Homo sapiens: one gene and its partners. Changing the gene in region 2 together with the main gene of any one other region gives a genetic interaction. Each region holds a gene or a part of one and is shown on either strand. Other genes may lie near its edges.

Region 1 (4,071 bases), on a different chromosome or scaffold from region 2:
GGGTTCAGGAGCAGCACATTGTAGTAGCACATAATGCGCCCGTCCAGCCGCGAGATGGTGTCCCGGAACACGAAATAGGGCACCGTGTTGAGCACCGCTAGTGCCCAAAGCACCAGGCAGACTTTGTGCGCCGCGGCCACGGTGCGGTGGTTCTGCGCCCACACCGGCCGCACCACCTGCAGGCAGCGGTCCAGGCTGATGGCGCTGAGCAGGAAGCCGCTGGCGAACATGTTGAGAAAGAAGATGGAGGAGTGCAGTTTGCAGAAGGTGGTGCCCAGCTCCCACGAGTGGCCCACGGCCAAGAAGTAGGTGAAGAAGGGCAGGGAAGCAGAGGCCAACAGGTCGGACAGCGCCAGGTGCAGCACCCAGGTGGTGACCACGGTCTGGCGCATGCGGCAGCCCACCACGAAGAGGATGACTCCATTCTCCACCAGGCCCAGCAGCGAGGCCAGCCCGTGCAGCAGCACGGCCGCGTGGTCGATGTAGCGGATGCTGGTGTTGCTGTGGCTCTGGAGACGGCTCATCTGCTCCAGGATGGGGCAGAGTGGCTTCAGTGTGGCGTTGGCCGACATCGTGGGGCTCTGCAGTGGAGGGAAGGAGGCGCCTAAGTTGGAAGTGCAGAGGCCACCGGGGAACCAAGAGAGAGGCCCGGAGTGGGACCCTGCCCAGGAGATGCCAATGTGACCCACGAATATATTGGGCGGTGGGGGTGGGGGGAATAATATCCCAGCATTGCTGTGCTTGGGCAAGTCATTTAACCTTCCCGAGCCTTTTTCTGCCTCTGAAACTTGGATGTCAGTCATAACATCACCTAGCTCATAGAGTTATTGGGAGAATTAAGTGAGTTTAATACATAAAAGCATTTAGAACATGGCCTGGCACAGAGCAAGCACTTTATCAGTGTCATTGTGATGATTATGGAGCAAATGGTCTAAGATCACACAGAGAAAAAGGAACAAGGTCAGGCCACACAGGACTCCTTTTTCCCATCCCCAGAGCACTGGCGGGTGAAGGAGGCCCCACAATTAGGGCAAGAGGATTCTGCTGGCCTGGGCGATGGAGATGCTGCCCCTTCCCACAGCATCCACAGCGCCCCCAGATGTTGCCTCTCTACAGATCCTCCATGCAGCTCCCCGCACTCAGTGGTGGCTGGTTAGATGTGCCGACCATAAACAGTGGAACCAGCCCCTCCTCTGATGGTTGGAGAGGAAATAAGATAAGAGCCAGGAGAGCTGGGGAGGAGGAACTCCCACATGGGGCTCTGGAGGCCCAGTGGGGCCAAAAGATCTCTCCCTTCTCAGGAGCAGCCACAGCAGCTCTCTCCGCCCCAGGAAACCCACCCCTGTTCATTCACTTACTCCATCATGCACTCATCCAACAAATAAGACGTGCATGCTTACATCCTCATTGAAAGCCCGAAAGACCATCTGATGTGAGGCTGGTCAAGACCAGTGAGGGCTGAGGAAATTCCATGAGGCTCCATGCAGGAGGTAGGAGGCAAGTAGCAGGGGACAGGGACTCAGGGTGTCCTGGGCACCAATGACACTCCAGGTACTATGGTAGGTCCTTCACATAGGTGCTGTCTTTCTGGCTCTAGAAAAATGGTGCTAGTACTCCATCCTATTTTACAGATGAGAAAACTGAGCCTCAAGTGGTTAAATAACTGGCCCAGAGCCACCCAGACAGCACAAACATGTGGAGGAGAAAGTTTCATGCTCAGCCTGTGCTCTTTCCTCTACCCCTACTCCAAGGAAGAGAGGATGGAGGAGGAGGAAGAAAAGCGGGAGAGGGGAGCAATGGTCTTCAGTACTCATCTTTCTAGGGAAAACACTGTTGGCCAGGATGAGAAAACCCACTCCCTTCCAGAGACCACAGTCCTTTGTAGAGTGGGGTTCTGGAATATCAAACTAGAATTCTGCTGGCGGAGGAGCCCCTTGGAGCTAGAGACCTGCAGGTAGATGGAAGAGGAGCCTGTGCTTCCTGAGAATGGTCATACTTCCTAGGCTTTAGAATGTGCAGAGCAGTTACTCTTGCAATGAACCTATGACACCCCATTTTTCAGAAGAAGAAACAACAACTTGCCCAGCGTTCCTCAGCTGCAACAGTGGGGCTGGGACTTCACTCCCAGCAGATAGCCAAGTACCACCCGCTGTCTGCCCTGAAACATTCCCTGCAGACCAGCTGCTGCTGATCCAAGTCCTATGGGGATGATCAGAGAGCACAGTCCTGCCACACCCTTGGGCACCACCAGATCAGTCCTTCTAACTCTATAGAGACAGCCCCCAGCCTCCCAGGATTCTCAGGAGCCAAGCAGCTAAGGTCCGGCTTTGGCAGGTTAAGAAAAAAAAAAAAAAAAAGGGACAGAGAGTGCAAGCTGTGGGAGTCCAAGACCTGGGTTTGAATCCCAGCTCCTCAGCTTCCTGGCTGCGTGACCTTGGGCCAGTTACTCTAAGCGTGCTGGTGTCATCTTCCCACCCAGACTGCTTGTGAATATTGACAGACAGTTGAGTGGTTTCCCCTCGTATCTGACATCTAGTTAATGCCTAAGAGAAGCTAATCCTTCCCTCCTCTGAGCACCAAGTCCCCTCCAGTCTTTGGTAAACTCAATCTTCTGCCATCCTAGCTGGTAACAGCCCTCTCACCTGGTAAAACTTTGCCTTCTTCTGTGGGTCTAGAGAGGGCACTAGGCTGCCCAACCCCTGGGCCACTCCTCCTTACCTGGGCACAGAGGGAGCACAGGATTCCAGCCCTGGAGGCAGTCAGCTCCTGACAGCAGCTAGACAAGAGGCAGCGGGCAGACAGAGGTGGGAGAGGGAGGCTGAGAGAGGAAATAGCTGTCAGCCCCAGTGCATGTGTGTTTAGGGGTGGGGTTGGGGGAGGCGGGGACAGCTGGAGAGTGAGTTGCCACACAGATGTTCAAATATCATCAATTTCCATCAATGCCGGCAGCCCCTGCTCCACCCATCCCCGCTTCATGAAGGAGACTGCAGAAGTCCAGAGGGCAGTGCAAGTGCACGTGAAAAAATCGATGTGTGCAAGAGAGTGTGAGCCCGAGTGTGACTAGGGGTGTGCTTTTGAGAGTGACCAGTGTGTAGGATAAGTGCGTGAGAAGGAGAATGTCTCATCCATCTGTCCACTGTTCCTGGGCTTCCATCTCCCGACACCAGAATCCTCAGAGAAGAAACCCCTCCAGCTGTTCTGAGTTTCCCAGGCAGTGTGGGGGCCTGTCCATGAGGGACCCGAGGGCTCTAAGGCCAGGAAAGTACAGTGGGGTAGTGGGGGCAGTGGCAAGAACGCAGTCCAAGAGGTCAGTCACTTCTGTTTGCTGAGCCCTGGGGTTGTCATCTGTGAACGGGAGCAGTAACATCGGCCTTACAGGCTGTGGTAAGGGTTGAATGAGATGGATTGCACAAAGCTCGTGGCACACAGTAAGTGCTTATAAAAATCAGCTTCCTTCTCCTCTGAGGGAAAAATGAATATAGGCTCTAAGGCAAAGGTCATATAGCTTTTATTTAAAACAGGCTCAATTTTGGGAGGCCGAGGCGGATGGATCACTTGAGGTCAGGAGTTCAAGACCAGACTGGCCAATGTGGCAAAACCCCTGTCTGTACTAAAAATACAAAACTCAGCCAGGCGTGGTGGCACATGCCTGTAACCCCAGCTACTTGGGAGGCTGAGGCATGAGAATCGCTTAAACCCAGGAGGTGGAGGTTGCATTGAGCCGAGATCACACCACTGCACTCCAACCTGGGTGACAGAGTAAAAACTCCATCTCAAAAAAAAAAAAATGGAAATTTAAACTAAAAAACAAAAACAAACAAACAAAAAAACACACAGGCTCAAAGCCCTAGGATAAGAGAAGTTTGCATTTCATTGTTCCCTAACTCCTTACTCTCATTTGCTGACCAAGCTTCCTGGGGTCAGGACCATCCCTTCAACCTCAGCATCTCAGCACCTAATGGATACTCATTAAAACATTTTAAGAACTCAATATCCCTGTATCGAGGCAAAGGCACCTCCCATGAGATGGACAGCACAAGCATCTTCCATTTAGGCCTAGTCTTAACGCAG
Region 2 (3,500 bases):
ATCTCTGAAGACTAACACCTCCAGGAATAAAGGGGGAGGGAGGAGGGTGGGGGAGAAGGCAGCTCTTACTGGTACTTGAAGGGCAGCCGTCTGGATAGGGGTGGTGAGGGCGGTGAGGGCCGGGTTCTGGACCGCAGCCATAACAGGGCTGCCATCTGTCTTCAGTGTGGTCAAAACAAGGGAATCTGTCTTGATGATCTGAGGCTGGACCAGGACCTGGATGAAGAAGGAAGAAAAGTAAAAGGATGATAGCATTATCCTTCTGTTATGCATTCCTTTCTTACTGCATAGACCTTCCAAGAAAGAATGAGAAATGATATAATTTTTATGAAATTGAGAATAAAAAAATGAACAGGAAATTTCATAGAGGCCATTTCAAAAGCCGGCTATTTTGTACAGCCTGAATACCGGGTTCAGGTGGAGAAAGAGGGGCTAGCTAATGAGGGTCCTGGCTTTTTTTTTTTTTTTTTTTTTTTGCTGAGACAGGGTTGCTCTCTGTTGCCCAGGCTGGAGTGCAGTGGTGCAATCTCAGCTCACTGCAGCCTTGACCTCCCGGGCTCAAGTGATCCTGCTGCCTCAGCCTCCTGAGTAGCTGGGACTACAGGTGTGTGCCACCATGCCTGGCTAATTGTTTGTATTTTTTTGTAGAGACAGGGTTTCACCATGTTGCCCAGGCTGGTCCTGAACTTTTGGGTTCAAGAAATCCACCTGCCTCAGCCTCCCAAAGTGCTGAGATTACAGGCGTGAGCCATGGTGCTCAGCCAGGTCATGGGTTTTTAGGTTGAAAGACTTTCAAGAGGGTGGTGCCAGTGGCCCAGCAGGAGCAGAGCAGAGATGGGTAGGGTGGATGGCAGAGAGGAGAGAAAAGACTCAGGAAAGCCAGACACATGGCTGAGAAGCAAAAATAATAAACCTGATTTTTTTAAGATAAATTGTTAGTAAGAAAATATAGGCCAGATGTGGTGGCTCATGCTTGTAATCCCAGCACTTTGGGAGACCAAGGCAGGTGGATCATGAGGTCAGGAGTTTGAGACCAGCCTAACCAACATGGTGAAACCCTGTCTCTACTAAAAATACAAAAATTAGCTGGGCGTGATGGCGCGTGCCTGGAATCCCAGCTACTCGGGAGGCCGAGGCAGGAGAATTGCTTGAACCCAGGAGGCTGAGGTTGCACAGTGAGCCGAGATCGTGCCACTGCACTCCAGCCTGGGCGACAGAGCAAGACTCTCAAAAAAAAAAAAAGAAAAAAGAGGATATAGTCCACGATGATATATAACATAAAGACGTTTTTTGTGATTATAAAAATAATACACGTCCCCCAGCTGGGCACAGTGGCTCCCACCTGTAGTCTCAGCACTTTGGGAGGCCGAGATCGATGCACTGTTTGAGGCCAGGAGTTCAAAACCAGCCTGGCCAACCTGGAGAAACCCCATCTCTACTAAAAATACAAAAAACTAGCCAGGTGCAGTGGCAGGTGCTTGTAATCCCAGCTACTTGGGAGGCTGAGGCAGGAGAATCGCTTGAACCTGGTAGGCGGGGGTTGCAGGGAGCCAAGATCACGCCACTGCACTCCAACCTGGGCAACAAGAGCAAAACTGTCTCCAAAAAAAAAAAATTAAAAAAAAGATTAATAATACATGCCCCCCCTCCCCCCAACCCAATATATGTTCAGGATCCACAGCAGAAAATATGGAGAACAGAAAACTATGAAAGCCAAGGGCAGTGGCTCACGTCTGTAATCCCAGCACTTTGGGAGGCCGAGGCGGGTGGATCACAAGGTCAGAAGTTCAAGCCAGCCTGGCCAACATCCCGTCTCTACTAAAAATATAAAAATTAGCCGGGTGTGGTGGCACATGCCTGTAGTCCCAGCTACTCGGGAGGCTGAAGCAGCAGAACTGCTTGAACCCGGGAGGCGGAGGTTATAGTGAGCTGAGACCACACCACTCCACTCCAGCTTGGGCAACAGAATGAGACTCCGTCTCAAAACAACAACAACAACAAAAAAACACAACACAAAACTATGAAAAAGAAAATTATCTGGGAAATACCAATTTAGCACATTTCTTTCCAGTTTTATGCCCATTACATGTGTACGTAAGTGACTGCACCAGCCTTTCCTGAGTGCCAGTGTCTATCTACAGATATGGACTCAGCCAGGTCACTATACGCTGCTCACAGGTGCATCCTGGCGCCCTACAAGCTGCTTTGTGTACACTCTGGTTGGTCCTTCTTAGTATGTAGACCACATCTTCAACCAAGGACCAGTTAACAGCCCCAACCAGTGCCTCCCTGAATCCTTTCCAGCCACTTACCGGGACCTGCTGCACCTGTGGCGCAGCAACTGTCTGCACCGTAGCCGGGGCAAGGGTCTGCAGCGTGCCATTGGCCGTTTGTGTCAGCACCCGCTGGGCCTGTACTGTCTGCACCTGCTGCTGAATGGTGACCGGCTGTACCTGGGAGGATGTCACCAGGCTTTGGACTTGAGGCTGAAGGACTTGGGAGAAGAGGAGAAAGAAGGCACAGAGATGAGGAATGCATTCTGTCACTGCAGCTGCAGCAGAAACCTGAGGATGGAGTATCTCATAATGATTCCAACTCCCCACCTACTGCTGAAGATGATGTGCACAGCCATTTACAAGGTGGCTTAGACAACAAGAACATCCCATAAGGGCTGCATCAATTTCTGAGGGAACGAGTACAAATTGTTTTATTACTCTGGGTGCCAGGGTGGGGGAAAGGGAAGCTAATCAGCAAATGACTGCACCCAGCAAGGGAGTTAACAGATGTTGAGAATCAACAACTCCCTGGGGCTTCATTTTCTTCCATCCTTTCTGGACGGCAAGTGCACTTTGGGAGGACTGTCTCAGCTTTTTGCCTTTACATTCCCCCACCTGTCCCAATTCTTGAACTCCATTGAAGAACTATAAGATTCTTTGAAATTCAAAGCAATACTAATCTTACCCTGGGCTCCCCACAGAGTCAGAGGGAAATATGATGAAAAGGCACTGGGATGCAGCACATCACAGAAAGAACAGGCCCCTTTCAGTCATCCATTCCCTCAACACATACTAAGGGCCCAGCATGAGGCTTGCTACTTGAAGCTGCTGCACCTATATTAAAAGTCATATTCATCACCATAGTGGATGCTCAGATGTTTGCTGAATGAATAGTTCTCAACTGTGGCAGCTGAGATCTGGCTGCCGCCTAGCCAATTTCAAGCCTTATTCAAGTCTCCACCACTAGTTATCAGAATGGCCCTGTGTCTACTATGCTTGCTGGATTTTTTTTTTTCTTTTTAAGATGGGAGTCTCGCTCTGTTGCCTAGGCTGGAGTGCAGTGGCACGATCTCTGCTCACTGCAAGCTCTGCCTCCCGGGTTCACGCCATTCTCCTGCCTCAGCCTCCCGAGTAGCTGGGACTACAGGCGCCCGCCACCATGCCCGGCTAATTTTTTCTATTTTTTAGTAGAGATGGGGTTTCACTGAGTTAGCCAGGATGGTC
Region 3 (3,500 bases), on a different chromosome or scaffold from region 2:
ATGTATAGCAAACAAATGTAGGATATAATGAAACTATGAAAATCCATTTTACTAGTAGAAAATACATTCATGCATCCCTTAACAATGAGGGTAAGTCCTGAGAACTGCATCATGAGGTGATTTCATCATGCAAACAGCAGAATGTACTTATGCAAACCAATATAGCATATAATTTTTTCACATGAAAACCCAAATGTCCCACCACCATAATTGAATATCAGTCATTCCCCCTACTTGATCTGCAATGCCAATATCAAGTGCCGTATATCAGGTTTCCATACATGCTCCATTAGAATCTTAAGGGACCACTGTCATATATGTAGGTCACTACTGACCAAAACATCATTATGTAATTATAATCATGAGTGCATGAGTTCCTAAATAAAGTAGCTCCTAAAATATTGCCCAGCTTGAAAATTTTTTCCATTATCTATATACTGCTTGTTCATTTCATCACATGCCAGCTCTTGCTGGCAGACAAGCAGAATTCCATCCCAAGCTGAGAATATTCTATCAGTTAACAATTTCTTTTGTAAATGGACTAGCCTAGTGCTTCTAAAACTTTTGCTTATGCACAAATCACCTGGTGATCTCTGCAGATTCAGATCTCATAGGTGTTGAGATTCTGCATATCATCTAGGTAATATGATACTGTTAGTTCCCATATCACACTGAGTAGTAAGGGAATATACCACAACCATCAGATATTGGAGGAATATCGGTAGCACCTGGTTCACTGTAGGTAATGAATACAAATAAATAGAGTGGCAGGACAGGAGCAAGGACTCTGCAGCACACTCTCCGGGGTAGGTCAAGCTCTCTAACCCTCAGTCTCCGTACCTTTTTTTTTTTTTTTTTTTTTTTAGATAATAGCACCTTTCGTACTCACTTCGGCAGCACATATACTAAAATTGGAATGATACAGAGAAGATTAGCATGGCCCCTGTGCAAGGATGACACACAAACTCATGAACAATTCCATATTTTTAACAAAAGAAGTAAAAAATAATAATAACACCTTTCTAAAAATTACTTGTTAGATAAAACAATGCATATAAAGCATCTAGCAGAGTGCCTGGGACATGATACCCCCTCAATAAATGGTACCTATTTTTATTTTCTGTGGAATGAATGAATGAAAAAAAAATGGCTTAACGAAGCATAAAAAACATCAGGTTGTGACAATCTTTACAATTTAATTACTGTATTATAATAATTACTGTATTATAAGTGAGCTATGATTATGCCACTGCACTCCAGCCTGGGTGACACAGCAAGAGACCTCGACTCTTTAAAAAAAAAAAAATACTGTATTATATGGTAACAAATAGAACCACTAGGTTATTTCTATTTATAGAATGAATTTTTATTTTCAAATAAACTCTAACTGGCTTCATTTTAGACATGTAGCAACTGTTGAATTAAAGAGTTCACTATATTAAAAAATAGGCAAAGTTTTATTTTGGTATTATAGTAATCTCAAATGTATCTTGTAAAAAAATTAATGTTTTCACTCCAGTTAAGTATAGTATATATTGCTCCTTCATAATTATAAGTCTATAAGTTATCTTATCCCTTAGGTGGTACTGTAGCAATCATGAGATTAACAAAATAGGCTTAATTATAAAGTATATCCCCCTTTCCCTAATGGTTCCCATGTTTTAGGTCTTAAAAAACATTATTTCTTTTTATTGCATTTGAGGAAGACATATTTTACTCTGAGCACATATTTACATATTTTGTCTGAGCACAGGTAGTGTTAAGATTATTGATAGAACACTATGAGCAAGCAGATGTTCACAACCTTATAAAAACTGAATAGATAACAGAGGTTTGGAAACATGATATAAACCTGCATCTGGCTATTCACATACCTTGTTTTCTTCACCTGAATGCTGCTACTGAGTTTTTCCAGCACATATTCACCAGTGTCATGATTAATAATAAGCACACAGTCTTTCTGGTAAGGCCGTTTGTTCCCCTTGAACACAGTCATGGGTGGTGTGGATCCCTATTTGCCACAAAAGTATAAGATGATCAAACTAAACATACCAGTTATGAATATCAACTGAATTTATAGATGACTCCACCTGATGAAATCTTTTATCAGAGCTATTCAAAAAGAACAGGTTGAACTGATTTCTATTTTATCTCCTTCTGGTTTCCGAGGCAAAAATAAAGGAGAAATAATATAGCAAGAATTTGTGAATGTGCAACGCGTTCTAAGTAATCAAAAAGGTAGTATAAAAGTTTTAATTACTATATACGTTCCAAGAGAGAAAAATTAACCATTACTTTCATTATACTAAGCAGAGTTATCACTCTGTATAGTAAAACTGTGAGTGATCTCTATTTCTTTGTCATTAGAGAGACCAGGGTTTCCCCTTCTCATGTCAAGCAACCAACAGAGCATTTTCCAAGAGAAGGTCATTATCCTGGTTGGCTCAGAATAAATAAATCATGTCACTCATCTGCCTAAGCCTTTCAATCACTCCTCAATTGCTCTCAGGCCAAAGGATAAAATCTTTAAACTAGCCACTTGGCCTTGCACTACCGGGCCCTTCCCTGGCTCTCCACCTCACCCTGCAGCATACTCCCCTGCGCATGTGCTTCAGAGCAGAAGGCAACTGGCTTCCCTCCTATCCTCAAGCTCTCTCCTGCCTCTGGGCTTTAACAAGGCTTCTGCCAGCTTTAACAAGGCTTCTGCCAGCTATATCCTGCCCCCTCTCTTTAAATGACCCAACCTCCAGATCTGCTCACAGATACTTCCTTAAGGAAGCTGTCCCTGATTTTGTAGAATAACTGCTATATTTTCTTGTATTAATTTAAACTCCAGACCATAAGCTCCACCAGGGCAAGAAATGTGCTTGTTTTGTTCAAGGTTATATACTTCATGCCTAGTAATGGGCCAATGTGTGGGAGGCATTTGATTAATATTTGTTGAATATCATATTTAATGCCTTGCTTAGAATAAAAAACTGCTTGGCTCTTTGACTCCTTATTTATATAGTAAAAATATAGAGCTAGAAAGAACTTTAGGGACCATTTTTCTAAACCTTTCATTTTACATATGGGAAACTAAGGTCCAAAGGGAGATGATGTAACTTGCCAAAGGTAACAAGTAATCAAACAGCAGTTTGAATGGGCAATTTTTCCTCACCACAAAGCTTTCCAGATCTCCCTGTCCAGAGACTTTTCATTCTGTCTCCAGCTACCGAGAACTTATGTTCCAGGACAGGGGTGTGACATGCAATAACACATGTTCACTAAGAGCATCATGTGACCCTTTGGTGCTTTGTCATTAGTGCTGCCTTGGGCAGAGCTTCACAAAAGTCTTTCTCTGCAAGGGTTCTTAATCCAGCTTTCAATTTAGTTCTTCATCCCTAAATCAGCTGAATGTGCCACACCTGTGGTTCCTGCCTGCCTTAACTCCTGGCTTGGTTGCCTCACACTCCTGAGCTGTTGTGGCCATATAATCAGCAGGGCACCTAGGGCTTTTC
Region 4 (2,755 bases), on a different chromosome or scaffold from region 2:
TCACCTCGCATGAGACCGCCCGCAGGTACCAGCACCAGCATGGTGGTGTGCATCCTTCCAGGCTTGTGCATGCATAGATCCCTCACATTTTCAAAAGCGATGTTGTGCCATACTTTTCTTGCTAATTTGCAGCCTATTGGAGCTATTTTTGCTTAATGATACATACATATATGTATTATATATATATATATATATATATATATATATATATATATATATATATATATAATTATTATTGTTATTATTTTTGTTCTTCCCCCCCCTCCAGATGGAGTCTCACTCTTGCCCAGGCTGCAGTGCAATGGTGTGATCTCGGCTCACTGCAACCTCTGCCTACCTGGTTCAAGCGATTCTCCTGCCTCAGCCTCCCAAGTAGCTGGGATTACAGGCGCCCGCCACCGCACCCAGCTAATTTTTTCTTTTTGTTTTTTTAAGTAGAGATAGGGTTTCACTATGTTGGCTAGGCTGATCTCGAACTCTTGACCTCAGGTGATCTGCCCACCTCGGCCTCCCAAAGTGCTGGGATTACAGATGTGAGCCATGGTGCCCGGCTACTCTTAATGATGTATTGACATCTTTCCCCAACAGCACAGCTAAATTTCCAAGTCGCATAAGCCCTGGGGCTTTCCTGGTGGCCCCACTGGGGCTGCTCCGTCCGGAACCTAGAAGAGGCTTCATGGCCAGGGCTATGGATTCTTTGCTCTGGATGAAGCTGAGACACAGTTTTCATCTGTTTTGTATCTTAGGGTTTTGAGTAAGATTTTCTATATAAAAAGGTTCTCCTGAATAATGAGATCAGCCAACCGCCCATGCAACTGAAGACACTGTCGTCATTGGGAAAGTTTCATCCTATTCCATGTAGTGCTTGCACCGTAGGTTCTTTAACCAGCTCCCTCACTGTGGCATCAAGGTTGCTTTTGGCTTTTGGCTGGGATGCGTGTGCTGTGGTGAATATCCTTGCCATTTATGTTTCCTGCTGTAAAGCCAGGGTAGCTGCATGCACTGGCATTTGAACAGGGTGAGACAGTCCACCCAGAGCTCTCCCAAGTCTCTCCCAAATACCTTAGAGTAGGGACACTGGTCCCCATTTATTGGTGAGAAAACAGGCTCAGGGTTTCATGACTTGTTGAAAGTGCAGAAATGGAATGCTGGCCCCCTGGATCTGCACATCTGCCTCGCTGCTGGTTTGCGGTAGGTTTGCCATGAACTCTTGGTGTCTACCTGCATCCCCTTGGGTGGCCCCTGCCCATACTTAGGCGGGGATATGCCTCTTCGGGCTTTTCAACAGCATTTTTTTTTTTTTTTTTTTTTTTTGTTTATAGAGCCTCACTCTGTTGCCCAGGCTGGAGTGCAATGGCGCCATCTCGGCTCACTGTAATCTTTGCCTCCTGTGTTTAAGTGATTTCCGGCTAATTTTTGTATGTTTAGTAGAGATGAGGTTTTGCCATGTTGGCCAGGCTGGTCTCGAACTCCAGGCCTCAGGTGATCCGCCCGCCTCTGCCTCCCAGCATCCTCGAGGTGCTTCCTGGTGCTTCCATCGTGGTCAGCCTGAAAGCCTTTTTATTGTTTTTCAGCTCAACATTTATTGACTAAATAAGTGAATTTGTGTTGGAAATGTCAGTTCCTTTTCTCATTGCTGAGCTTATCACCGTGGAGTCCTCCTAGTAACTGATTTCAGTGGTTTCTGTTCCCCTAAGTGCTCTTGAGATGAAGCAGGAGAGTGGCCCAGCGTGCCTTGTAGGAGGAAGTGACAGAAGGAGAGAGCGTGAGCGTGATCTGCCTGGGCTTGTCCTCCCGGAAGTCACAAGCATGCAGCCAAAGCTGTTTGCCTTCGGTGGAAATTTCCGAAGGTTGTAACATACTGGATATTATAGGAGTGAAAGCTCAGGAGCATAAAGTGAGGCGTGAGGCCGGGCGCAGTGGCTCACACCTGTAATCCCAGTACTTTGGGAGGCCAAGGGGAGGATCACCTGAGGTCAGGAGTTCGAGACCAGCCTGGGCAATATGGTGAAACCCCCGTCTCTACAAAAAATTAGCCAGGTGTGGTGGCATGTTCCTGTGGTCCTAGCTCCTTGGGAAGCTGAGGTGGCAGGGGTCGCTCGAACCTGGGGAAGTCAAGGCTGCAGTGAGCTGAGGCCGTGCAACGGAGTGAGGCCTTGTCTCACACACACACACACAAAGACACACAAAGATAACTTGCTGATATTTGAGTAACACCAGTTTGCTAAAACTAAAAAGATGCCTTTGTGTCACCTTACGTAAAACAAGACTTGTTGCCTATAACTGATCTCAGCATCTGCCTCCCCCTCTTCTCACTCTGTACCTACATTCAAAGCCCCCTCTTCACAAGCCCAACGCCCCCATCTCCCCAACAGTCCCCTCCACTGAGGAGGGCCGTAGTTCTGTTGAGAAATTGTCAGAGTTGATAAGCTAAGGGTACAGTCACAGATTTTCTTGTTCAGTCTGCTTAACAGAAAGGCTGTTCCAACGGTAGGGGGAGAGAAAGGGACCGTGTTTCATTCCTAGTGTAAACATTGGAAGTCCAGGTATTTTGAAGATTACCTCATTTTTCAAAGGCGAAACCCCTCAGTCTTCACCCCAGGAAAATGGGACGCCTCACGCCTCATTTTAGCTGGGTCTCCTGAGTAGCTGAGACTACAGCTAATTTTTATATTTTTTTGTAGAGACAGGATCTTGCTATGTTGCCCAGGCTGGACTAGAACTCCTGGGCTCAAGTAATCCTCTTGCTTCAGCC
Region 5 (3,500 bases), on a different chromosome or scaffold from region 2:
GCAGGATAGCTGGACCAGAGGAGCATCTGGAAAAATCCAGACTGAAGGGATCTTATCTCCCATTTAACAGAAACTGACAGAACTTAGCTCTGGCTTGGACTGAAAACAGAGGCAGGACGAAATTAGAAAACACTTAAGTGAAGGACCTGGACAAACATCTTAGGCCTGAGGAAACATCTCAAGAAGGGTTCTCCCAAATTGGATAAAACTTGGCTTTGTAATTAAACATGCACCTGTGATTTACAGGTATTGAAACTCCTCTGGCTAGACTAAGGAAGTTATTTGCATTCTACAACTTAAATGAATGAGACAGCCAATGAAGAATGGTTAAGAAGCACAAGGGGCAGAATCTCACTCCCAAAGCTGTTTTTGAATAAGGAGCCTCGTCTTTGACCCTTTAGGAACCAGAGCAAAGGTCAGTATTTGGAATACCTAGGGCATTTCTCACCATAACCATCTCTATTGACTTCCAAGAGTATCCCATCAGTCCCCCAAAAGGAGTTTGAAAATCAAGTGTGAATTCCAAGTGAATTTCAGAGAATGTGGTAGTTAAGAGAATCACCAACCTACATGAGAAAACAGAACATATGAGACTAGGACAGGATTGGGAGAGCAAAGAATGAAGTCCTGTTCCTCACTTCTCAGCTTCCACATCACTTAGATGTCTGGCACACTCCAGCACAATCAAAAGTACAGGAGTAAAGTGCTATTAGAGAGAATCTCAGTGATACTCACTTCTTTAGAAAATCTTGAAAGTCAGCTGGTAAGTCACTAGGGATGGTCACAGGGTACTCTCCACATTCCTGTCCTTGGCTGAGGGACAGCAGCAGAAGGCCAAGACGCCAAACATCTCCTTTCTTCCCCGTTTTATAAGGCAGAGCATTGTCACTAAAACGAACTCGGGTTTGCTCAAACACATCCTCCTTGCAAATGTCTGCGAGGCGCTTAGAAATGCTATAGTCCGTAATCTTGACGGTGCCTTCTGCATCCACCAAGACATTAGATGCACTCAGGACCTTATGCACCACAGAATTGCTGTGCAGATAATCAAGGCCTGACAGGAGCTGAGCTGTGTACCTGCGAAGCTGATGCACAGGGATGGGGCCTGAGTGGCTCAGGTGTGCAGCAAGAGAGACCCCACTAATGTGCTCCACTAAAATGTCCACCACGATGGAGTCGTCTTGCTCTTTGAGATTCATTGCAAGGTAGCGTACTACATTTGGATGGCTCAATTTTACCAGTGAGTTGAATTCTGTTTCTGTTCCTTGAATCTGATAAGTTAAAAAAAAAAAAAAAGAATATTGGGCCAGTCAACATTAACTTGGGTTTCATTTCAAAAGTGAAGTATTTGATCATACAAGATGGGGGCATAAAAAAACAAAACCAAAACCAAAAGTGAAGTATTTGATAGAAAATATACTTTCAAATGAGAGGAGAACAAATATGCCCTAAACTGAATCCTCCCCAAACCATATGGTCAATCTAATAGTTCATAAAGATGGAAAAAATTTAGCTAATTCTCAACTTCTCTAATCTCAAAACCTACTATGCATATACTACAAAATTAGTGAACAGTTTTTAAAATAAAATTCTTTTGAGGTATAGCCACTAGAAAAAACAAACTTTAATTTAAAAATAACCTTTTCTGATTAGCTTTGTATTTGGGTTTTTAAAAATATAGTATATGATTTGAGCAGCAGAATAATGGCCACATCCTAATCCTCAGAACCTCACATGGCAAAGAGGAGTTAAGGTTGAAGACAGAAAAAAAAAATCTTTTCTGATTTAATAAAGATCATTGTCAACATTTAAAAAATTAGTTTGATAGAAAATACCCACATGTTATCTATGTGGTCACCACCCAGTGATAACTCAAGATTTTGGCACATTTACTTTCAGTTTTCTTTCTATACTTAAATACACACACATTTCTGAACACCATGCTTTATCTACGTTTTTGTAAACCTTGTTATTATGTAACACTGCAATATGCAATACTGAATGTTCTCCTTATGCTTGGTTATAAATCATAATTTATAAATTAACTTAAAAATCCTCCGGTCCCCCAAAATTCAGTTTTGAAGCAGTATTTTTCTTTTCTTTTTTTTTTTTTGGAGACAGGGTCTTGCTCTATCACCCAGGTTGCAGTTCAGTGGCATGAACACAGCTCACTGCAGCCTCAACCTCCTGGGCTCAAGCAATTATCCCACCTCAGCCTCCCGGGCTCAAGCAATTATCCCACCTCAGCCTCCCAAGCAGCTGGGACCACAAGTATGTGCCACCATGCCCACAGATTTTTAAATTTTTTGTAGAGACAGGGTTTCACCATGTTGCCCAGACTGGTCTCAACCTCCTGGGCTCAAGTAGTCCTCCTACCTTGGCCTCCCAAAGTGCTGGGATTACAGGTATGAGTCACTACACCCAGCCCTGAAGCAATATTTCAAGAGTAGGGAAAAGAAGAATTGCAAAAAAACCCAATTATGAACTAGTATTTAGTCCCAGTTGGAAAGATGACTGTTAATGCCATACTAAGGGCTAAGAAAGGAGGTTAAGAAGGCAGCTGGAAGTGCTTTGATCATGTTGTGAAAGTTCTGAAACCAGAGGCAAGGGGCAAAGAGGTACTGGTCCTTCACTGTCCTCCCTGGTCAAACAGTTCTCATACTGCTCTGGACCATCTCTGCAGGGCAAACAAATGCAGGGCTATTTTGTTCTGTCATCTCCTAAAGCCTGAGATTAGGCCTTTTGCTCAGTCAGCCACCTTGGATGCTTACCTGCTTTTTGCACTTATCAATCTTCTCTTTTTCTTGACTGGTAAGGAATGGACCCATTTTTTTCTGCCACTGAAGGACCCACTCATACAACAAGACAAAGCCACCAGTGGCTGTTTCCAAAGCATTGTAGACTAATTTTCCAAGTTGTTCATCACTGCCTGCACATTAAACAGAAAGTGTAATTAAATCCCACTGGTATGTTTTCTCTTGGGGGAAGGAAGGGAGGGGGTAATACACATTCTTTAGTTCAACAATGGATACCATGCGCTAACTATGGAAAATAGGACTTTATGTAATAATGTCCTTTTGTAAACAATTTTTGATATTTAGCAATATACCTGAGTCCTAAAATAATTTTTTATAAGGGGCAAGAATCTACAATGAGATCTTAGTATCAGGCAAATAAAGAGACCAATGTTTGGCCAGGCGTGGTGGCTCACGCCTGTAATCCCAGCATTTTGGAAGGCCAAGGCAGATGGATCACCTGAGGTCAGGAGTTCGAGACCAGCCTGGACAACATGGTGAAACCCCGTCGCTACTAAAAATACAAAAAAATTAGCCAGGTTTGGTGGCGGGCACTTGGAGTCTCAGCTACTTGGGAGGCTGAGGCAGGAGAATCGCTTGAACCTGGGAGGCGGAGGTTGCAGTGAGCCTACAACGCACCATTGCACTCCAGCCTGGGCGACAAGAGCAAGACTCTGTCTCAAAAAACAAAAGAGGCCAGTGTTT
Region 6 (3,500 bases), on a different chromosome or scaffold from region 2:
TTACCATAAGTAGAAATAAAAGGAAGTGCTTCCTAAATAAGACTCTAGTAGAATGAATCATTATAAAAAGACAAAACTTTATTTTTGTTTTTATTCTCTCACCAGCTCCAGGACTGAACTCCATGATAGTAATAGTGCAAAATCCACTGTATTGCCTGAACATAACATGCAGCTTGATCAGCCAGAAAGTCACTGAAAATAGAATATTTTCATTATAACATATTTTCTGAAGACAGGCCCGTGTCTTTAGAGCACGGTATCTGCTGATACAACATTTTACCTCAGATGATTTATTTAATCAATGAATTAGCTATTTATGGCTAAAAATTATAATCCTAAAAACTCCAAAATATTTTTAAAAATTACATCCTGTCACATGACAGTTTTCCTAAACCAACTATCAAAATAGATAAGTCTGTTATTCATATTTACTCAGTTAATGTACCACTCCCTTGGTCCAAAGGTTGAAGATTTACCCAATGAAGCTTTCCATAGTGACACTACCACTCTCTTAAATAGTGGGGGTGAGACGGGAGAAAGGGATGGGAATCTTCTTTACATGGGATGATATCTGAGAGAAGCAAAGCAGCAAATCAGGAAGATCTTAAAATTTGGTCACAGAAGCTAGAATGCTTTCAGAAGTGCTGTATGTGAACAATATTCCTTCTAATCCTTTCTTTGTCAAAAACCAAATGCCATCTTCTAAGTTTGGGTAAAATAAGTCTTCAAATCATCAAAACAAAACAAAACAGAGCCCTGGGCTAAAGGCAAAAATATTCACTTAGAAATTACATAACTACATATTTCTGGGAGGTAGTTTTTTAATATGAAAAATATTGCTTTTTTATTATAAAAGAACTATTTCCTCAGGAGTGAAAATCTGGACAATGAAGAACAGCATTTTTATCATCTTATAGCCATCACTTTTACATTTTTAGTGTTTCAGTCTTTTATCTATATCTAGGTTTTTTTAAGGTTAATGAGAGCATACTGTATGTATGATTTCATGTCTTGCCTTTACAATTTGTACTTAATAATGTACTATAAGCATCCTTCCAAATTGTTATGAACTTTCTGCAAGTACCAGTTTAGCAGTTCTGCAGATTCCGGAGATGGAAGAGGTGACAGAGATGGTGACTGTAATGAAGAAGCAGTGGCCAATTATGATGAACCTTCTTATTGGACATTTAGATTATTTCTAATTTTTTTACTATTATAAACAACTTTGTAACAAAAATCCTTATACATAAGGATCATTTTCTCTTCAGCAATTTTTATCACAGGAATATAATACAAGTCAGAATTAATACCATCTTCTCCAAAACCAGACTAGTTGAAACATACACAATAATTCATGAAACCAAAAAATCCTTTTTCTCCCACTACTTCATCAAAATCATATTTTCTGAATAACTGCAAAATCTAATTTTTTCTATTTTAAAATAAAAGCATTGGCAAAAACGTACTCAGATACTACGTCAACCCCCATCTTCGTCATGTAATATGTTCTTTTATATTGTCTAAACTCAGTTTCAAATAGGTCATCATCTTCAGTCTCATCTTCTAAATTATCTGGGGAAAAAAGTCAGAAAGATAGTGACTGACAATTATGAATAGCCTGTTTTTCCACCTAATGATTTGATAAATGCATATCCAAGTTGATGCTTATATGCTATCACAGAAATCTGTTCCACCCAAAATTAGTAATAATAAATAAAAGGTATAACAATTATCCTGTCAAAGTAGTAACATATCAAAACACATACTTCATACTTACCCTTAGAAGTTATCATTTCGCCTTCATTTTTGTCTAAAGCAGTCCAACACAGAGAATTTTCCTGGCCCTGTAAATTGTAAATCAACATAAAATGAATGGCAAGATACATTTCAAAATGAGATGTCATTTCTCTTCCATGCACCCATTTGCTTTTCTATAGTTCTTCCATGTTATAACATCCTTCATATCCTGCCCATCTGTTTTTCCTCCCTTGTGATCTCAATCCTTTCTCTCCTCTATTCTCTGATTTCCTGTCTACTGCCAATGACTCTCTTTAGTTCTTCCTACTCCCTTATCCCCATTTCCTTTCTTTCATCCAACTTATGGCCTCTACCAACTTCCTGTGTCTGGGCTATTCCTGCACAGTGTCTCTAAAGTTAGCTGCATATGGCTGGAAGACTGGTGAAGTTTAAGTACTGAATTGTGGTGGGGGAGCCAGGGATTACTGACAGGTAAGTTTTGTGTGTACAGGTTCCCAAAAAGTTGCAGAGCCCGTTTTCTTAGGGGGGGAAAAAAAAAGACACACACACACACACAAAAACCAGTGGAATGCAGACTGACTGCTGCCAAGTTCCAGTGAGGAAGAGCTAAGCAGCGAGAAGGACTACACTAGAGAAAACAAGGACAGTTGCCCCTCCTGGAGCAAGAGTCATTAAGTTTGAACCTAAATAGAACCAGTACAGCAAGGAGAGTAAGAAGCTCAACAGAATCTTGGCCGGGCACGGTGGCTCACGCCTGTAATCCCAGGACTTAAGGGAGGCCAAGGTGGGCAGATCACGAGGTCAGGAGTTCGAGACCAGCATTACCAACATAGTGAAACCCCGTCTCTACTAAAAATACAAAAATTAGCTGGGTGGTGGCGCGCACCTCTAATCCCAGGTACTCAGGAGGCTGAGGCAGGGGAATTCAAGCGAACCCAGGAGGTAGAGGTTGCAGTGAGCCAAGATCGCGCCACTGCACTCCAGCCTGAGTGACAGAGTGACATGCTGTCTCCAAAAAAAAAAAAAAGAAACTCAGCAGAATCCAATAATTACAGAGAGGCTGAAGAATTTTTCACAAGAGGTTTACTTTTCAAGTTAACACAAGACATTCTTTGGAGATTATCAGAGATGCTCTGCAGGGTACTATCATATTCTAATTGATTCTATTATTCATTTATTAAGCACATAACATTTACTAGATATTGTGCTATTAGGCTGGCACAAAAGTAATTGTGGTTTTTGCCATTACTATTAACTTAGACTATTGTATTTTATATGTAAATCATTTCTAGAGAAAAATCACTGATCTAGTTAATGTCTCATATCATTAAACACTATAAATATCCACATTTTAAAAACTAGTCCATTGTTTTAAAATAACAATTTTTTTTTAATTAAAAAAAAATTGCCAGGGGAAAGTGTGAATGCAGTCCTCCACTACCATAAGTCACGCAGTTCAGTTTCCCACATTTGGCGAAATCGCAGGGCATCAGCACATCCAGAGTGCAATGGATAAACCTCGCCCTGGGAAAACTACCTTCATGATCATGGTATCCTCCCTGTCAGGTTTTAAATAATTGTTTTTCTTTTTTATGAGACAGAGTCTCACTCTATCAGCCAGGCTGGAGTGCAGTGGCTCAGTCTTGGCTCACTGCAACCTCTGTCTCCCAGGTTCAAGTGATTCTCGTGCCTCAGCCTCCCAAGTAGCTGGGATTACAGGTGTGTGCCACCACATCCAACTA
Region 7 (3,500 bases), on a different chromosome or scaffold from region 2:
TGGGGAGGGAGGCTGAGCCAGAAAACTTCTGCAGCCCTTCCCACTCCTAACTCTGTGGTTTGGAACTTCATATTAAAAGTCTGGTTTGGCCAAGCGCGATGGCTCACACATGTAATCTCTTTGGGAGGCTGAGGTTGGCGGATCACCTAAGGTCAACAGTTCAAGACCAGCCTGGCCAACATGGAGAAACCCCGTCTCTACTAAAAATACAAAAATTAGCTGGGCGTGGTGGTGCGTGTCTGTAATCCCAGCTACTCAGGAGGCAGAGGCAGGAGAATTGCTTCAACCTGGGAGACAGAGGTTGCAGTGAGTGGAGATCATGCCATTGCACTCCCGCCTGGGCAACAGGGTGAGACTCCAACTCAAAAATAAAAATAAAATAGGCTGGGCGCGGTGGCTCACGCCTGTAATCCCAGCACTTTGGGAGGTCGAGGCGGGTGGATCACGAGGTCAGGAGATGGAGACCATCCTGGCTAACACGGTGAAACCCCGTCTCCACTAAAAATACAAAAAATTAGCCGGGCGTGGTGGTGGGCGCCTGTAGTCCCAGCTACTCAGGAGGCTGAGGCAGGAGAATGGCGTGAACCCGGGAGACGGAGCTTGCAGTGAGCCGAGATTGTGCCACTGCACTCCAGCCTGGGCAACAGAGTGAGACTCCATCTCAAAAAAATAAATTAAAAAATAATAAATAAATAGATAAAATAAAATTAGTCCATGGTTTTAAGCTTCCTCCATCTAATAAGCAAGGGCTTAATTGTGTGTGTGTGCACGTGTGTGTATAATTAAATATATACATATATTTATGTATTAAATATATACATATATTTATGTATTAAATATATACATATATTTATGTATTAAATATATACATATATTTATGTATTAAATATATACATATATTTATGTATTAAATATATACATATATTTATGTATTAAATATATGTTATATATGTAATATATTTATATATTAAATATTAGTATAAGCTATATAATGTGTATATTAATAATTCATAATACGTTATTTATATATTAATAATTAGTATGTATTATATACTATAGCACATGAAATATGTAATCTATATTAACATATAAATATTAAATATAAATCAATAATACATATTATAAATAATATATTATAAATAATATAGATACATGTGACCAGGTGCGGTGGCTTATGCCTGTAATCCCAGCACTTTGGGAGGCCAAGATGGGCAGATCACCTGAGGTTGGGAGTTCAAGACCAGCCTGAACAACATGTAGAAACCCCTTTTCTACTAAAAATACAAAATTAGCCGGGCATGGTGGCGCATGCCTGTAATCCCAGCTACTTGGGAGGCTGAGGCAGGACAATCACTTGAACCCGGGAGGAGGAGGTTGCGGTGAGCCGAGTTTGTGCCACTGCACTCCAGCCTAGGCAACAAGAGTGAAACTCCGTCTCAAAATATATATATGTGTACATTATAAATAAAGCTATAATATAATATATTATTGTATATTATTTATAATATACACATTTATATGTTAATATGTATACACAAATAATGTATACTTAATATTTATATTAAATATAAATCCTATTATTACATATTATGATATGTATGAAGTATTATTTATATTAAATATTGTTTTTCTTTAGAGGCCACGTCTTGCTCTGTCCCCCAGGCTGGTGTGCAGTGGTACCATCATGGCTCACTGCAGCCTCACACTCCTGGACTCAATCCTCCCGCCTCAGATTCTTGAGTAGCTGAGACTACAGGCACGTGCCACCACACCCAGCTAACTTTTAAAATGTTTTACAAAACATTTTTGTTTTGTTTTGTTTTGTTTTTGAGATGGAGTCTCGCTCTGTCGCCCAGGCTGGAGTGCAGTGGTGCGATCTCGGCTCACTGCAAGCTCCGTCTCCCGGGTTCACGCCATTCTCCTGCCTCAGCCTCCAGAGTAGCTGGGACTATAGGCACCCGCCACCATGCCCAGCTAATTTTTTGTATTTTTACTAGAGACGGGGTTTCACTGTGTTAGCCAGGATGGTCTCAATCTCCTGACCTCGTGATCCACCCGCCTCGGCCTCCCAAAGTGCTGGGATTACAGGCGTGAGCCACTGTGCCCGGCCACAAAAGTTTTAAAACAGAGACAGTCTTGCTATGTTGTCCAGGCTGGTCTTGAACTCCTGGCCTCAAGAAATCCTCCCACCTCAGCCTCCCAAAGTGCTGGGATTACAGGTGTGAGCCACCGCGCCCGGCCAAGGGTCTATGTTTTATTGTCTTTTGGTCCCAAGACTCTGCTCTCAGGTTCTGCCAAACAGTTAGTTTAAGATTCTCAGATTCTGTGTTTCAAGAACTCCAAAGGCTGGGCTGCAAAGGTTCTCACATCTCTGATTCTCTGATCAAATGTGTTGTCTCGGCTGGGGTGACTCATGCTTATACTCCTAGAGCTTTGGAAGGCTGAGGCTGGAGGATCACTTGAGGCCAGGATTTTGAGACTAGCCTGGGCAAAATGGCAAGACCCTGTCTCTGCAAATTTTTTTTTTTTAAATTATCCAGGCATGGTGGTGTGTGCCTGTAATCCCAGCTACTCAGGAGGCTGAGGTGGGAAGATCCCTTGAACCCAGGAGTTCGAGGCTGTAGTGAGCTGTAATCATGCCACTGCACTCCAGCCTGGGCAAAAGAGGGAGACATCTGTAATTAAAAAAATAAAAAAGTATAATCCTCAATTTGATGAGTTTAAGGATCCAGATCTCTTTTCTATGGTTCTAGGCTCTTAAGTAGCATTGACTGATTTCTGTGGCTGGAAGTAGGACTGGAATTGAGACAGCAAACATCACTGTAGCCGGGGACGGCGTGCATGGCTGGGCCATTCTGCTCAGCGGTGTCTGTGCAGGTTCAGTAATTAACCATGTTTATTACCAGCCCTGCTTATATGTGAAGATCTTTGTCAGCCAGGCCTGATGGCACGTGCCTATGGTGCCAGCTACTGGAGAGGCTGAGGCAGGAGGATCGCTTGAGTCCAGGAGGTCAATGCTCCAGCCTGGCAACAGAGCGAGACCCTGCCTCAAAAAAAAAAAAAAAAAAAAAATCTTTGATGCTATACTTCTGTGAGTCTTTGGGCCTGTGAGCTGTAGTTCTGTGACTAACTTTCTTGTACTCTAAGGTTTGAAGTGTCCAGATATACTGAACCTTTACCAAGTGTCTCTGTACAGCGGCCTTTGTGTCTATGGCACATGGATAGAACTCAGAAGTTCGTAAAGGGAAAAGGGAGTTGGAAAGAGTGAAAGGTGGAGGGGACAGGCTTCCCAAGCCCACTGTGACCCCCTCCCTCCACAGCACCTCCTGCTTCCAAAATGCAAAGTTCCAGGTACCTTAACATCTGTGACGCATTCATCCTCCAAACCCCGCAGGGTGCCAGGGGAGAGAAGGGGCCCCAGCTCCCCATTCTCCAGGGCGGCCATGTCCACCAGCCCTAGGACCTCTCTGGGGATGGGGGTGAGAGAAAAGGAGGTCTGT

What was found.
Region 1: changes in SREBF2 (region 2) and PTGDR2 together harm fitness less than expected from each alone (positive genetic interaction), as found in Homo sapiens cells (one large-scale study listed by BioGRID).
Region 3: changes in SREBF2 (region 2) and EAF1 together harm fitness more than expected from each alone (negative genetic interaction), as found in Homo sapiens cells (one large-scale study listed by BioGRID).
Region 4: changes in SREBF2 (region 2) and MRM2 together harm fitness more than expected from each alone (negative genetic interaction), as found in Homo sapiens cells (one large-scale study listed by BioGRID).
Region 5: changes in SREBF2 (region 2) and EIF2AK4 together harm fitness more than expected from each alone (negative genetic interaction), as found in Homo sapiens cells (one large-scale study listed by BioGRID).
Region 6: changes in SREBF2 (region 2) and XRN1 together harm fitness less than expected from each alone (positive genetic interaction), as found in Homo sapiens cells (one large-scale study listed by BioGRID).
Region 7: changes in SREBF2 (region 2) and EXOC3L2 together harm fitness less than expected from each alone (positive genetic interaction), as found in Homo sapiens cells (one large-scale study listed by BioGRID).

The regions. Positions count from the first base shown.
Region 1 is NC_000011.10:60,853,151-60,857,221, forward strand, and holds the start of PTGDR2 (prostaglandin D2 receptor 2), read right to left. Parts: upstream 2,801-4,071; 5' UTR 2,719-2,800; intron 582-2,718; 5' UTR 573-581; coding exon 1-572.
Region 2 is NC_000022.11:41,867,605-41,871,104, reverse strand, and holds part of SREBF2 (sterol regulatory element-binding protein 2), read right to left. Parts: intron 2,495-3,500; coding exon 2,313-2,494; intron 217-2,312; coding exon 70-216; intron 1-69.
Region 3 is NC_000003.12:15,430,598-15,434,097, reverse strand, and holds part of EAF1 (ELL-associated factor 1), read right to left. Parts: intron 2,012-3,500; coding exon 1,875-2,011; intron 1-1,874. UniProt on the Homo sapiens protein: Acts as a transcriptional transactivator of ELL and ELL2 elongation activities.
Region 4 is NC_000007.14:2,236,451-2,239,205, reverse strand, and holds part of MRM2 (rRNA methyltransferase 2, mitochondrial), read left to right. Parts: intron 1-2,755. UniProt on the Homo sapiens protein: S-adenosyl-L-methionine-dependent 2'-O-ribose methyltransferase that catalyzes the formation of 2'-O-methyluridine at position 1369 (Um1369) in the 16S mitochondrial large subunit ribosomal RNA (mtLSU rRNA), a universally conserved modification in the peptidyl transferase domain of the mtLSU rRNA.
Region 5 is NC_000015.10:39,965,115-39,968,614, reverse strand, and holds part of EIF2AK4 (eIF-2-alpha kinase GCN2), read right to left. Parts: intron 2,930-3,500; coding exon 2,772-2,929; intron 1,272-2,771; coding exon 736-1,271; intron 1-735. UniProt on the Homo sapiens protein: Metabolic-stress sensing protein kinase that phosphorylates the alpha subunit of eukaryotic translation initiation factor 2 (EIF2S1/eIF-2-alpha) in response to low amino acid availability.
Region 6 is NC_000003.12:142,417,038-142,420,537, forward strand, and holds part of XRN1 (5'-3' exoribonuclease 1), read right to left. Parts: intron 1,845-3,500; coding exon 1,778-1,844; intron 1,573-1,777; coding exon 1,467-1,572; coding exon of another isoform or gene 1,433-1,466; exon of another isoform or gene 804-1,432; intron 193-803; coding exon 103-192; intron 1-102. UniProt on the Homo sapiens protein: Major 5'-3' exoribonuclease involved in mRNA decay. Required for the 5'-3'-processing of the G4 tetraplex-containing DNA and RNA substrates. The kinetic of hydrolysis is faster for G4 RNA tetraplex than for G4 DNA tetraplex and monomeric RNA tetraplex.
Region 7 is NC_000019.10:45,228,408-45,231,907, forward strand, and holds part of EXOC3L2 (exocyst complex component 3-like protein 2), read right to left. Parts: intron 3,468-3,500; coding exon 3,356-3,467; intron 1-3,355.